Homo sapiens: one gene and its partner. The protein of the gene in region 2 interacts with the protein of the main gene of each other region in a biochemical or structural test. Each region holds a gene or a part of one and is shown on either strand. Other genes may lie near its edges.

Region 1 (8,658 bases), on a different chromosome or scaffold from region 2:
GTAGTTATCTGAAATGGGAGAATAAATTTATTCCATTTTACTCTGTCATGACTAGCGGAAGTCTGTTCTTTCTATTTAGAAAGTTTTTTTAGAGATGATTAGAATGGCATAGTACTTTTAGCTAAATCATCCAAGAAAGGTTGTGTGTCATTTGCTCCATATGAAGTGAAGTCTAATTCTGAACTTTGGAAGCCTTTCGTTATCAAACTCCTAGTTTATCAGATGCAGATTAAAAGGATTTATGTGTGTGTGTGTGTGTGTGTGATATACACACACATGCATATACAGAGGTATCTGTACATATTACATATGTACATATCGTAAAAGATGAAAATATATATCTTTTTATTTTCTGAAATTCTTTGACCCAGACTCAGGTAGCTAGTAGGATTTCCCATAAATTATAAAGTTTAGATAGTTTAGTCCACAAGTTTACCCACTGTCAATTCTAGATTGTTTCAGATTTTAAGTTTGCTTGCTAAGATTGAAATTCTCATATCTCAGGGTTTGCCTTTAAAGTAAAAATGTACAGAGGCTCCTTTCGCTCTAAAGAGAATAAGCCTTTGATATAGCTGTTTGAATTTACAGGGAAATAACTTCTCAAATATTAGTAGTTCTAGTGGTATTTACTTGTTAACAAATACCCCACATTTAGACTATCTTTGCCCAACTGTCTTTTCTTTTTTCTCTAACTTGTTGTAGTTGCAAATGAAGGGTAAAAATAATTGATTTATAGATGTGCTTATCATTTGTCGATCCAGAGTTTTATGAGGATTATTTTTAGTTCAAATTAAGAATTTCAGAGAGAGTGAAGATCTATGCTATAATCTTTACTATTTTGTAGTAACGAGTCATTTTATTTTTATTTTTTTATATGAAGGAAAGTTTATTAAGGATTATTGACTTATGATCACAAGGTGAAGTCCCACAAGAGGCCATCTGCAAGCTGAGAAGCAGGAAAGCCAGTCCGAGTCCCTCATTTTTAAATACTGTGTTTTCATAGAGAAACCACGAAAAGAACTGATCAAATTCATCAACTTTAGAGTACTTATATAATTAATGTATATTTTTAAAATATACCCAAATTGAAACAATGGTTAATGGTCATAAATCAAGTAAAATATTAATGTCTTCCTTTATAATTTTTTTTTAGTACAACACCTCAGGTATTGAGCCCCACTATTACATCTCCCCCAAACGCACTGCCTCGAAGAAGTTCACGACTCTTTACTAGTGACAGCTCCACAACCAAGGTAATTTAAAGATTTCTGTATGTCACATTTACTTAATGCTTCGCCTGCTAACATTTCTGTTCATTGATGACTCCATTCCTAATAAGTTAACAAAGAGACTATTTCGAATTTTAAAATGTTTTAATTTAGAGGGCCATCTATGATTTTTGTGAAGTTAATTAGTCCTTTGGTAAATATTATATAATATTCTTTTTTAATTAAAAAATTTTTTTTCTCAAGTTAAAAATGACATAGGAATAATCTTGAAATGGCAAAATTATAGGAATGGACAACAGATCAGTGATTATTAGGAGTTAGGCCTCTAGGGAGGATGTTACTATTAAATCATGGCACAAAAGAATTGCATTGTGGTGGTACAACAGTCCTGTATCCTGATTGTGGTGGTTGATTACACAGATCCATTCACGTGATAAAATTTTATAGAACTATGCACACACATACACACACACGGGTTTATATAAAAACTGATGAAATCCATGTAAGGTCTTTAGCTGATAATATTGTACTAATTTCAGTTTCCTGGGTATGATGATATACTATGGTTATGTCACATGTTATCATTTGCAGAAGAGTGAGTCTAAAATTATTTGAAAATAAAAGTTAAAAAAAACTGGAGACCCGGCGGACGCAGTGGCTCACGCCTGTAATCCTAGCACTTTGGGAGGCCAAGGTGGGCCGATCACTTGAGCTTAGGAGTTTGAGACCAGCCTGGTCAACATAGCAAGACCCCATCTCTGAAAAAAAAAATTAGCTGGGATGGTAGTACTCTTTGATCCCAGCTGCTTGGGAGGCTGTGGTGGGAGAATCACTTGAGCCTGGGGAGGTCAAGGCTGTGGTGAGCTCTGATTACATCATTACACTCCAGCACGGGCAACAGAATAAGATCCTGTCCCAAAAACAAAACAAAGGCCGGGCACGGTGGCTCATGCCTGTAATCCCAGCACTTTGGGAGGCCAAGGCAGGCAGATCACCTAAGGTCAGGAGTTCGAGACCAGCCTGACCAACGTGGAGAAATCCAGTCTCTTCCAAAATAAAAATTAACCGGGCGTGGTGGCTCATGCCTGTAATCTCAGTTACGCGGGAGGCTGAAGCAGGAGAATCGCTTGAACCCGGGAGGCAGAGGTTGGGTTGCGGTGAGCTGAGAATTACATCTACTTATTTTCTTACTTTTAAATAATAAATGAGAGTTTGATATACTTTCACAAGAGGGCTACACTTAATGCTGACACACCTTAGTCACTATTAGTTAATGTAATTTATGTTCAGAATTACTGTGTTTAAAATTAAATGACTTTGAAGACCTTTGTTTTTATAAACTCTCTTCTGAAAAAAATATAGAATTAATCAAGATTGTACATTTATTTTATATCTAATACTGGAGAAAGGGCTGAGGAGAAATCTAAAATACATGAGTATAACAGGTGTGAAATTTCTTCCCTTTTACAGGAGAATAGCAAAAAATTAAAAATGAAGTTTCCACCTAAAATCCCAAACAGAAAAACAAAAAGTAAAACTAATAAAGGAGGAATAACTCAACCTAACATAAATGATAGCCTGGAAATTACAAAATTGGACTCTTCCATCATTTCAGAAGGGAAAATATCCACAATCACACCTCAGATTCAGGCCTTTAATCTACAAAAAGCAGCAGCAGGTCTGTTTTAAATGCTTAATATTATCTTTGTATTTTATTATGTACTTATTTTAAGTAAATTTCTTTATGTTCATTACAGTACCTTCATTGTTTTTTATATAGATGTTGGAATTTTTAATAGATTAGTTTGTAATTACCTTTTCTAGAGAAGCAGACTAGTTTATTGCGTTTTTTCCTTTGTTTACTATGTTGTTTTCTCCTAGAAGGTTTGATGAGCCTTCTTCGTGAAATGGGGAAAGGTTATTTAGCTTTGTGTTCATACAACTGCAAAGAAGCTATAAATATTTTGAGCCATCTACCTTCTCACCACTACAATACTGGTTGGGTACTGTGCCAAATTGGAAGGGCCTATTTTGAACTTTCAGAGTACATGCAAGTAAGTATAGAAAATGGTTATATATGCCTTTCTAGAGATAATTTCAATTTCATTAAAATAAATGCCCATGCTTAAGAAGGCTAGATCTAAAAGATCAGTATTTATTATGTAATGTCTATATATTTATTTTGTCAGTATTTATAATTTATAGATATAGTTCTTTCTTGTGTTAAGGAGTAATTTAAATTCTTTGCAACTTCTCGGAATAGGTTTATAGAGACCCAAGTCATCCAGACATTCTTACGTAGAGTGTGTCCTATTCAGTTGTGTCTGAAAATACATATTTATATTTACCATGTAATAGGATTTATTTATTTTTCTGCAATATACAGAGTTAATTACTGGGGTGAATTTTTGACATCGAATATGTTTTATAAGCTTGAAGAATGCTATAAAGAAAATTGTGCTGAATTGAGGACACAATGTCTTTAATACAAGGCTTTTTACTCTTTGGATTTTAATTAAATTTGTTGCTTAAGTTATCTGTCTATACCAGAAAAGGAGAGAATGATTAACCTAAAGCCAAAGAAAATTCTAATTCCCAATTTATATTACCCCTTAGTTCTTCCCAAAGCATTTTCTCCACCCCCAACTTAAAAAAAGAAACCTTTTAGAAACCTATATATTAATAAAATATCTCTAATATGGATTAAAGTTGATATGATTCGTTTTTTGCTTAATTTGCTTTCAGTTCATTTATTCAATATATATCTCTGTGCATATGATATCCTGGACTCTCTTCTAGACTCTGTATTACAGCTAGTCAGACAATTTCTTGCCTCTGTGGAGCTTACATTCTAGCAACAGACAGATTATAAGCCAATAAATGTATAAGAACAGGTAGCAATAAGTCATGAAGAAAAATGAAGCATGGTGAGGAAACTGGGAGACAATGAAGTATGGTGTTTTTGTTTTTATGTACTCAGAGGGAAGGTTACTCTTCCCTTCATGATCCATGCAAAGATCTAGGGGAAAGGTGTTCTTTCCCACAGGGAATACATACAGAGGATACCTATTCATATAATTTAATTTTGAATAGTACAGAACAGAGAGTTGAAGACAGAAAGTCTTATTCATTGCTACAAAACCCATGTTTCGATTATGGTCCTTTACTGGTATGTAGCATATACACAGACAGGCAAGAGCTGTGTTCGGAAAAGCCATTTAAAAAATTATTTCTAATTTATTGTTTCACAGCTACTTTAACATAAATGAATTTTATTGTTTCCCCTAGTTATAGTGGTGACCCAAATATTTAATTAAAGAAAGCCTCTGTTTCAACTTAATTTCTGAGTTTTTTTCCCATTTTTCTTTTTGTCTATGCCATAATCATTTTTCAGAGGAAGCAACAGATTCTGAAAACTTTGAAACCAAAAGGTACCTACCTATATTTGGCTGGTAGGTCTTTTATCTTGTTACCATGCCTGAATGAAAAACTTGGCCAGGTGTGGTGGCTCATGCCTATAATACCAGCACTTTGGGAGGCCAAGGAAGGGGGATCACTTGAGCTCAGGAGTTGGAGACCAACCTGGCCAATGTGGTGAGACCCTGTCTCTACAAAAAAATGAAAAAATTAGCTGGGTGTGGTGGCACTCACCTGTGGTCCCAGCTACTTGGGAGGCTGAAGTGGAAGGATCACTTGAGCCCTGCAGGTCAAGGCTGCACACTTACCTTTATAACTTTTAAGAGATTGCAAGGAAGTTACAAATCGTTAAGCTATTCCTATATATCATATGACCACTTCTTGGAATTAAGCACTCAGTTTTAAAATGCTCTTATTTTCTGTCATACTCATTTCATTAAGAATAGTCCAGATATTCCTTATTATAAACTAAACTGTGAAAATTTCTTTTCCTTTCTTTTTTTTTTTATTACCTAGACCTTTTCTGGCAGCTGAGAATTTTGAACTTGGTAAATTGATAAACTAGGAAACTGATTTTATATAACCTAAATCCTCAAACTTTAGAGGGAGAGAAACACAGTTCTGGGAGCTGTGAATGTGATGAGGAAAAAAATTGATGAGGCAGCTGAGGAGAGACCCTGAAGTCAAGAGAGTGCTGCAAAGGAAAGGATAATTAATAGGTAGGGCCTATGATTCCTAGCAGACACAATATTGGTGTGTATATTCAGGGCTCAATAGGATTTATAACCATAGGATTGATAGCCAGCTTAACCTGTTTCTTCCCTCTAAATTTTCTGGCACAACCTCTCGGTAAAAATTGTTCAAAAATAGATTTTATGTTACAGAAATCATTCTTCCATCATCTTTCCTAAAAGAGTTATTCTGGCCAGGTGTGGTGGCTCATGCCTGTAATCCCAGCACTTTGGGAGGCCGAGGCGGGTGGATCACAAGGTCAGGAGATCGAGACCATCCTGGCTAACATGGTGAAACCCTGTCTCTACTAAAAAATACAAAAAATTAGCCAGGTGTGGTGGCAGGCGCCTGTAGTCCCAGCTGCTTGGGAGGCTGAGGCAGGAGAAGGGCGTGAACTCGGGAGGCGGAGCTTGCAGTGAGCCGAGATTGCGCCACTGCACTCCAGCCTGGGCGACAGAGTGAGACTCCATCTCAAAAAAAAAAAAAAAAAAGAGTTATTCTGTAATGCCATTATTAAAACTTGGAAATGAGGTTTTTGAGAAGGAAATATTGACTTTTCTTTTGAATTGTAGCTTTGTATAGATTTCTCTTCGGTCTTTTTGGTAGAAACTCAAATTTCCTTTTCAGAGTTCATGTTCTTACCATGGCTTGTATATAAATACTAGGTTGACTGTCAATATGGTTACATCACTATTTGACCTGCCATAGTAGATTGCTGAATTTGTCCTTGTGTTAATACTCATTCACATAAAAACCATAATACAAGGCAGCATTTAGATCCTGTGAAGATAATGACCAGGGCTTTCCCTGTGTATATATATAAATTGTATCAACTTGTTTTCTCTTACTAGTTTTTTTTATTTCAGGCTGAAAGAATATTCTCAGAGGTTAGAAGGATTGAGAATTATAGAGTTGAAGGCATGGAGATCTACTCTACAACACTTTGGCATCTTCAAAAAGATGTTGCTCTTTCAGTTCTGTCAAAAGACTTAACAGACATGGATAAAAATTCGCCAGAGGTATGTTAACCAAAATACTTTGCTTATATAGTTACCTTTTTGATCACCCTCAACAGATAGAGATGAACCAAGCAATTCAAACACTATTTAGTGTCACCCACGCTTATTTCTTTTTTTTCCTCTCTCTCTAGTCAGGGACTCAGAGAGGAAGAGAAAGTCCTAGAATGTGTGGTGCAGATTCACAAATAGAAAAATCACAAAGCAGCTATTTCATTCAGGATTTATCGAGATTTGACTACGTTAAATTTGCTGTTGTCACCAAGATTAGGGTTCGTTGAGCAGAAGTTACATAGATTGAAAAAATTAATAATTTTAAATTAAAATAAATTAGTATTGTCATTGTAAGACATAGGTGCAATTAATGTACATGCTCTAATCTTGTAAGATTGTATTTCATTGCATCTCAAAAATATTTAATGATACTTTTGTAACATATCTAAGCTTAGAATTAAACACAGTCAACTCCCATTATTTGCGGTAATTCTGTAGTCAACATGAACACTGAATTAGTGCTACTGAACCAATGTTCCTGGGAGTGATGGAGAGTTTGAAACAGAGATAGATTGTGGATTATAATCTTGAATCCTAAAAATAACTCATCCTGGTAGATCCTATTTTCTTTACAAAAGAGAGAATGCTGCTGGGTGTGGTGGCTCACACCTATAATCCCAGCACTTCGGGAGGCTGAGGCAGGCGGATTCCTTGAGCTCAGGAGTTCCAAGACCAGCCTCGGCAACATGGCAAAACCCTTCTCCACAAAAAATACAAAAATTAGCCAGGTATGGTGGCTGGCATCTGTGGTCCCAGCTGCTCGGGAGGCTGAGACAGGAGGATCACTTGAGCCTAGGTGGCGGAGGTTGCATTGAGCCAAGATCACACCACTGCCCTCCAGCCCGGACAACAGAACAAGACCAGATCTCAAAAAAAAAAAAAGAGAGAGAATGAGGTTCAGAGGTGACTTGCCTGAAGCCATCCTACTTAAAAGTGCCAGCAGTGGGATTCAAATTCTGTCCAACTGTCCCCAGAGCCAAAGCTTCTTGCACTACACTAAACTAGCCCACAGAGTTTCTGTCCCTGGTCATCTCTGCATGAGAGCTAAAACAAGAAGGTAGAGTCACATTATTCAACCTCAAATGAGAACATACCTTTTGATGACTATGAAAGCACTGCAAGTATTGATTTTGGTTTTACAAATAAATTTTAGCAATCAGACAAATTCACAAATATGGAATCTGTGAATAATTAGAATTGAGTATCTACTGAAGCTCCTCCATTTTTGTCTTTCTGTTCTAAGTTGAGGCTTGATTTTAGTCATAGATTTGGTTTTAGAAAAAGTAAAATTTTAATTCTGTTTGGTTTTTGTTCCCATTTTTTTAAGGCCTGGTGTGCTGCAGGGAACTGTTTCAGTCTGCAACGGGAACATGATATTGCAATTAAATTCTTCCAGAGAGCTATCCAAGTTGATCCAAATTACGCTTATGCCTATACTCTATTAGGGCATGAGTTTGTCTTAACTGAAGAATTGGACAAAGCATTAGCTTGTTTTCGAAATGCTATCAGAGTCAATCCTAGACATTATAATGCATGGTAAGTGGTAATGAAGTACAAAGACAAAGTCGTATTGATGGTGCTGGTACTTACTAATTTTTCTTGTTAGATAGCTCTTTATTATCATGAATTTGGTTACTTATACTTAGGGATGGTACATACTGGTCAATAACTTCTAACTAAAATGTTTTCTTATGAAATGTACGTCTTTAACAAACTCTTAAATTAACTAATGATAATAGAATACCAGATCCTTATACTCAACAGTTTCAGCCTTCTACCAAACTTTTGCAGATACTGTAGTTGTTTTTTGTTTGTTTAGTTTTGTTACTTTGTTGCTTTTTCTTCGAACACCGAAATGGTGATTGGGATGAAAAGTGCTTGGGAAATTGGAAAGGAATAGCATAATTCACTTATTGGATAATAGGAAAAAAAATTGAAAAAATTTACTAGTTGCTGCTTTTTGACAGTGTTCTGGTTTATTGAGTTACTATTAAGAACTTAGTGTACCCTTTTATTTAGCAGTATCTCTATTTTACTTTTTTGTACTTGTGTATAAGTAGACACATAGGAAATTACTACCTAGGTCATATTGTTATCAACTGAATAAGATATGAAAAAGTTTGGTCCTATTTCTGCCTCAACACCATACTTACTGTTGACATTTATTGTATTTTTCTGGACTGACTTAATAGTTTAAATATCAAGATAAG
Region 2 (5,007 bases):
GCTTGGACCCAGGAGACAGAGGTTGCAGTGAGCTGAGATCACACCATTGCACTCCAGCCTGGGCAATAAGGGTGAAACTCTGTCTCAAAAAAAAAAAAAAAAAAAAAAAAAAATTAAGCTTCTGACCAGCATAGAATAAGACCCCATTATGAGAATTTTGAGGGTCGGGCACAGTGGCTCACGTCTGTAATCCCAGCACTTTGGGAGGCTGAGGCAGGCAGATCACCTGAGGTCAGGAGTTCGAGACTAGCCTGGCCAACATGGTGAAACCCCATCTCTACAAAAATAAAAAACTTAGCTGGGCACGATGGCGGGTGCCTGTAGTCCCAGCTACTCAGGAGGCTGAGGCGGGAGAATCACTTGAACCCACGAGGCAGAGGTTTCAGTGAGCCGAGATCGCGCCATTGCACTGCAGCCTGGGCAACAAAGCAAGACTCCATTCCCCACCCCCACCCCACCCCCCAAAAAAAGAGAGAGAATCTTGAGGAGAAAAAAAAATCCATCTAGAAATTTTTTTTTTTTGAGACGGATTCTCACTCTGTCACCAGGCTGGAATGCAGTGGCACGATCTCGGCTCACTGCAACCTCTGCCTCCAGGGTTCAAGCGATTCTCCTGCCTCAGCCTCCCGAGTAGCTGGGACTACAGGCGCATGCCACCACGTCCAGCTAATTTTTTTTGTATTTTTATAGAGATGGGGTTTCACCATATTGGCCAGGATGGTCTCGATCTCTTGACCTCGTGATCCGCCCGCCTCGGCCTCCCAAAGTGCTGGGATTATAGGCGTGATCCACCACACCCGGCCTAGAAATTATTTTTATACCAGTCATCATCTTGGTGGCTGGTGGCAGTCTCTTGGGTAATACGTTGTTGCATAATATTCTTTCCTTGACTCCTTACAGATCAGCAAGTTGCTCGGATGGAAAAACTAGCTGGTTTGGTAGAAGAGCTGGAGGCTGACGAGTGGCGGTTTAAGCCCATCGAGCAGCTGCTGGGATTCACCCCCTCTTCAGGTTGATACTGCCTGGATGGTCACCTCTGGTGCGCAGCAAGTGCAAAGCCAGTGGGGGACTTTCTCACAGCTTACATAGCCATCCAGAGATCCACAGCTACGTCACTGAATTGTTAATGCACATTTGTACTTGGTTTCTCTGTATCTATTCACAGGCAACAAATACTTATATGTGTGATCTTTCAGGGAATGTTTTGTTTATTTGTTTTTAAAAGTATTGGGAATCAGATTAAGACAATCAGTTTCAGAGAACCAGGAGGTTTGGGGTTAAGAGATACTCAAAAATTTTCACAAGCCAAGTAGGGCATATATCAGATTTGGCCAACTGAATGGCGTCTGTCCTGTCATCCATATGGTGCCTGGAAATATTTACCAGTCAAGGTCAAGGTCAGCATCTGTGGTTAAAAATATAGCATTCTGACCTAAAAAAGTTATTTTGCAGATGAATGTGTTTTCAACTCAGGACCTATCCAAATGAGGAATTTTTAAATATTCTTTTTTTTTTCCTATTTTTAGACATCAATTCTATAGATTCTGACTTTTTCTAACCTCTTATAGACATGCCAAATGCTGGCAAAAAGAAGTGCTTTTTGGATATGGCAGCACTTGTAAAAATAAAGCAGTAAGCAAAATCCTTTTAAACACAGAAATCCTGAGTTCTTCTCATTGGTGGACTCAAGCAATTCTGTAGCAAATAAATCCTTTGAAAGAGCTCCAAATTGGTGGCATTATCCTTTCAAAATCTCAGGGATTTGGGATGAAGTGAAGAGGTCAAATTACTTTTTAGAAGAAGGGAATCTAAAAACCATCTCTCCTAAACAAATGGTAGACTGGCTTTACTTAAGGGATATTTGTCTTTATAGGAGTACATAAATTTATCTTAATGATATTTAAGTAGTTTTTTTTTTTTTTTGAGACGAAGTTTTGCTCTTGTTGCCCAGGCTGTATCGCAATGGCGCGATCTCTGCTCACTGCAACATCCACCTCCCAGGTTCAAGCAATTCTCCTGCCTCAGCCTCCCAAGTAGCTGGGATTACAGGCACCCGCCACCACACCCAGCTAATTTTTTGTATATTTAGTAGAGACGGGGTTTCACCATGTTGACCAGGCTAGTCTCGAACTTCTGACCTCAGGTGATCCACCTGCCTCAGCCTCCCAAATTGCTGGGATTACAGGCGTGAGCCACCTTGCCCAGCCAATTTTTTTTTAAAGAGACATGGTCTTGCTATGTTGCCCAGGTTGGTCTTGAACTCCTGGCCTCAAGAGATCCCCCCAACCTTGGCCTCCAAAGTGCTGGGATTACAGGCATGAGCCACCGCGCCTGGCCTCAAGTAAGTTTTTATACCATGATAGGGGAAAACCTGGAAGGCTAAGAGATGTGCTGTTTTCCTTCATGGGACCCCACTTTCCACAGTAAACAACTGGTATAATCATTTATTACGTTGTATGCAAATTTTGCCTTAGACAACATTTGTCTGGTTCCTTATTAATAACTTGCATCTGATCTGCTTAGAGTTGCTTAATTATAAGTAAATATAATCCCAGTAGCATTTAGCCTTAATCTCAAGAGTTCAAAATGTTTAACACATTCTACCTGACGGGAGGTGGTGACCTCATTCAGTCGGTTAAGAGCCTGAGCCCTGTGAAGTTAAACACCTGCTCATGGTCACATAGCCCAGGCAGAAGAAAATCTCGGACTTGGAATAGATCCCAGTTGCCTGATAATTCATCTCATTATTGCCTCTAAAGCAAATTGGAGACTGGGCACAGTGGCTCCCACCTTTAATCCCAGCACCTGGGGAGGCTGAGGTGAGTGGATCACTAGAGGTCAGGAGTTCAAGACCAGTCTGGCCGACATGGTGAAACTCAGTCTCTATTGAAAATACAAAAATTAGCTCAGTGTGGTGGCACACACTTGTAATCCCAGCTACTCAGGAGGCTGAGGCATGAGAATCGCTTAAACCCAGGAGGCGGAGGTTGCAGTGAGCTGAGATCACACCATTGCACTCTAGTCTGGGTGACAGAGCGAGACTCTGTCTCAAAAAAAAAAAAATAAAGCCGGGCGTGGTGGCTCACGCCTGTAATCCCGGCACTTTGGGAGGCTGAGGCAGGCGGATTGCCTGAGATCGGGAGTTCGAGACCAGCCTGGCCAACATGGTGAAACCTTGTCTCTACTAAAACTACAAAAAAAATTAGCCAGGCGTGGTGGCGGGCGCCTGTAATCCCAGCTACTCAGGAGGCTGAGGCAGCAGAATCGTTTGAACCCGGGAGGCGGAGGTTGCAGTGAGTGGAGATCGTGCCTGTGTGCTCCAGCCTGAGCAACAAGAGCGAAACTGTCTCAAAAAAAAGAAGAAAATAAATAAATAAAAATCAGAGCACAAGAAGTACCAGTCCACCAACTCACATTTTCTATATTAATAATTCTTAACTAAAAGAAGTTCCATATTCGACAGCATTTTAGTTTTTTAATAGTACTTATTAGCATCAACCATCTTGATAATCACCAAGGGAAAAATTAAAAATACCTAGACTGCAATAAACCTTTAAATTGGATTTTCAGTGAGAATTTAGAAGCAATCACTACCTTTCTCGTTTCATTTGTGTAACCATGCAGCATAGGCACTGTGTTACATCATCTTTACGCTTTGGTATTTGAACTTATTACAGAATTTTTTCTCTAAATTGGATGTTTCTTTATATGACCTTGGAAACTGAAGTGATCTTAGCATTAAACAAAAATGCTTTTTGAAGCACCTTTCTCATTGATCACTTAGCTGCTATTTTAGTCTTACCAAGAATAAGACTCTCACAATTTTTTAAAGAGAGTACCTCCCTCTCTATACCTTTTTGTCAGTCATTATGTTGCATCGTCCACAACGCCTGTTACTATGCTTTGGGCTCAAAGATGGTCCCAGTTGCTGATCTGTCATCTGTCTTCTCTTGTGCCAGTCACTCACAGGCATGAATTATAATCCTCTGAATAACACAGCAAGATACGTAATACCCCCTAATATAGAAAAGGAACTTGAAGCTCAGAGCAAGTGTCACTTGCCAAGGCTGCACAGCTAAGTCAATGGCCAAATCTGGATTTAAGTTCAACTCAGCCAGAATCCAAAGCAGCTTCTTTTAGATTCACTATGCCACATCCCACCAAACCCAACCCAGCACATTGTATTAGGAAAAATCCTAAAACTTTTGATTAAATGGTAAAAGGAAGTAACTACCTGGAGAAAATAAGGCTTCCGCTACCTTCCGTCCTCCCTCCCAGGGCTTGGCAAAAAGAGATCTTGAGCATGAGGAAGGAACAGCTTCTTCAGAAACAGGAATTAGCTGTATGTTGGCTTCTGCATACCCTCTTAAGATTCAATATGGGGCAGGACACAGTGGCTCACACCTGTAATCTCAGCACTTTGGGAGGCTGAGGCAGGCGGATCACCTGAGGTCAGGAGTTCGAGACCAGCCTGACCAACGTGGAAAAACCCCATCTCCACTAAAAATACAAAATTAGCCGGGCATGGTGGCACATGCCTGTAATCCCAGCTACTCGGGAGGCTGAGGCAGGAGAATCACTTGAACCCAGGAGGCAGAGGTTGCAGTGAGCCAAGATCGAGCCATTGCACTCTAGCCTGGACGACAGAGCGAGACTGTGCCTCAAAAAAAAAATTATTCATATCAATCTGACACATAATTCTATATAACTGTTTTGTCTCGTAATGAGATATCAACAGTAAAATAGCTAGTTTTACACAGTCGTACAAAAATTTCCCATTTTGACTTCACAATTATCCAGCATCAGCTTTAAAGTCCAGAGTTTTCACTGATACACAAACATGTTATTGATTAGTGCCATCCCATAGGTGACACACCGGAATGACAGTGTCTGGAAACTAAATCAAGTTCCTGACCCAAGGATCTCTCTCTATCTGCCCATTTACCTGCAGCCTGTGGCTCCCCTTCCCCAACATGGCTGGGAGTCCTGGAATCTGCTGTTCCCAGT

The links. The genes of interacting proteins can lie anywhere in the genome.
Region 1: the proteins of ANAPC16 (region 2) and CDC27 are reported together in a solved structure, tested with the Homo sapiens proteins (one study listed by BioGRID).

What each region holds. Positions count from the first base shown.
Region 1 is NC_000017.11:47,136,478-47,145,135, reverse strand, and holds part of CDC27 (cell division cycle protein 27 homolog), read left to right. Parts: intron 1-1,153; coding exon 1,154-1,253; intron 1,254-2,699; coding exon 2,700-2,907; intron 2,908-3,110; coding exon 3,111-3,283; intron 3,284-6,244; coding exon 6,245-6,397; intron 6,398-7,775; coding exon 7,776-7,984; intron 7,985-7,990; exon of another isoform or gene 7,991-8,658. UniProt on the Homo sapiens protein: Component of the anaphase promoting complex/cyclosome (APC/C), a cell cycle-regulated E3 ubiquitin ligase that controls progression through mitosis and the G1 phase of the cell cycle.
Region 2 is NC_000010.11:72,232,101-72,237,107, forward strand, and holds the end of ANAPC16 (anaphase-promoting complex subunit 16), read left to right. Parts: intron 1-900; coding exon 901-1,016; 3' UTR 1,017-3,760; downstream 3,761-5,007. UniProt on the Homo sapiens protein: Component of the anaphase promoting complex/cyclosome (APC/C), a cell cycle-regulated E3 ubiquitin ligase that controls progression through mitosis and the G1 phase of the cell cycle.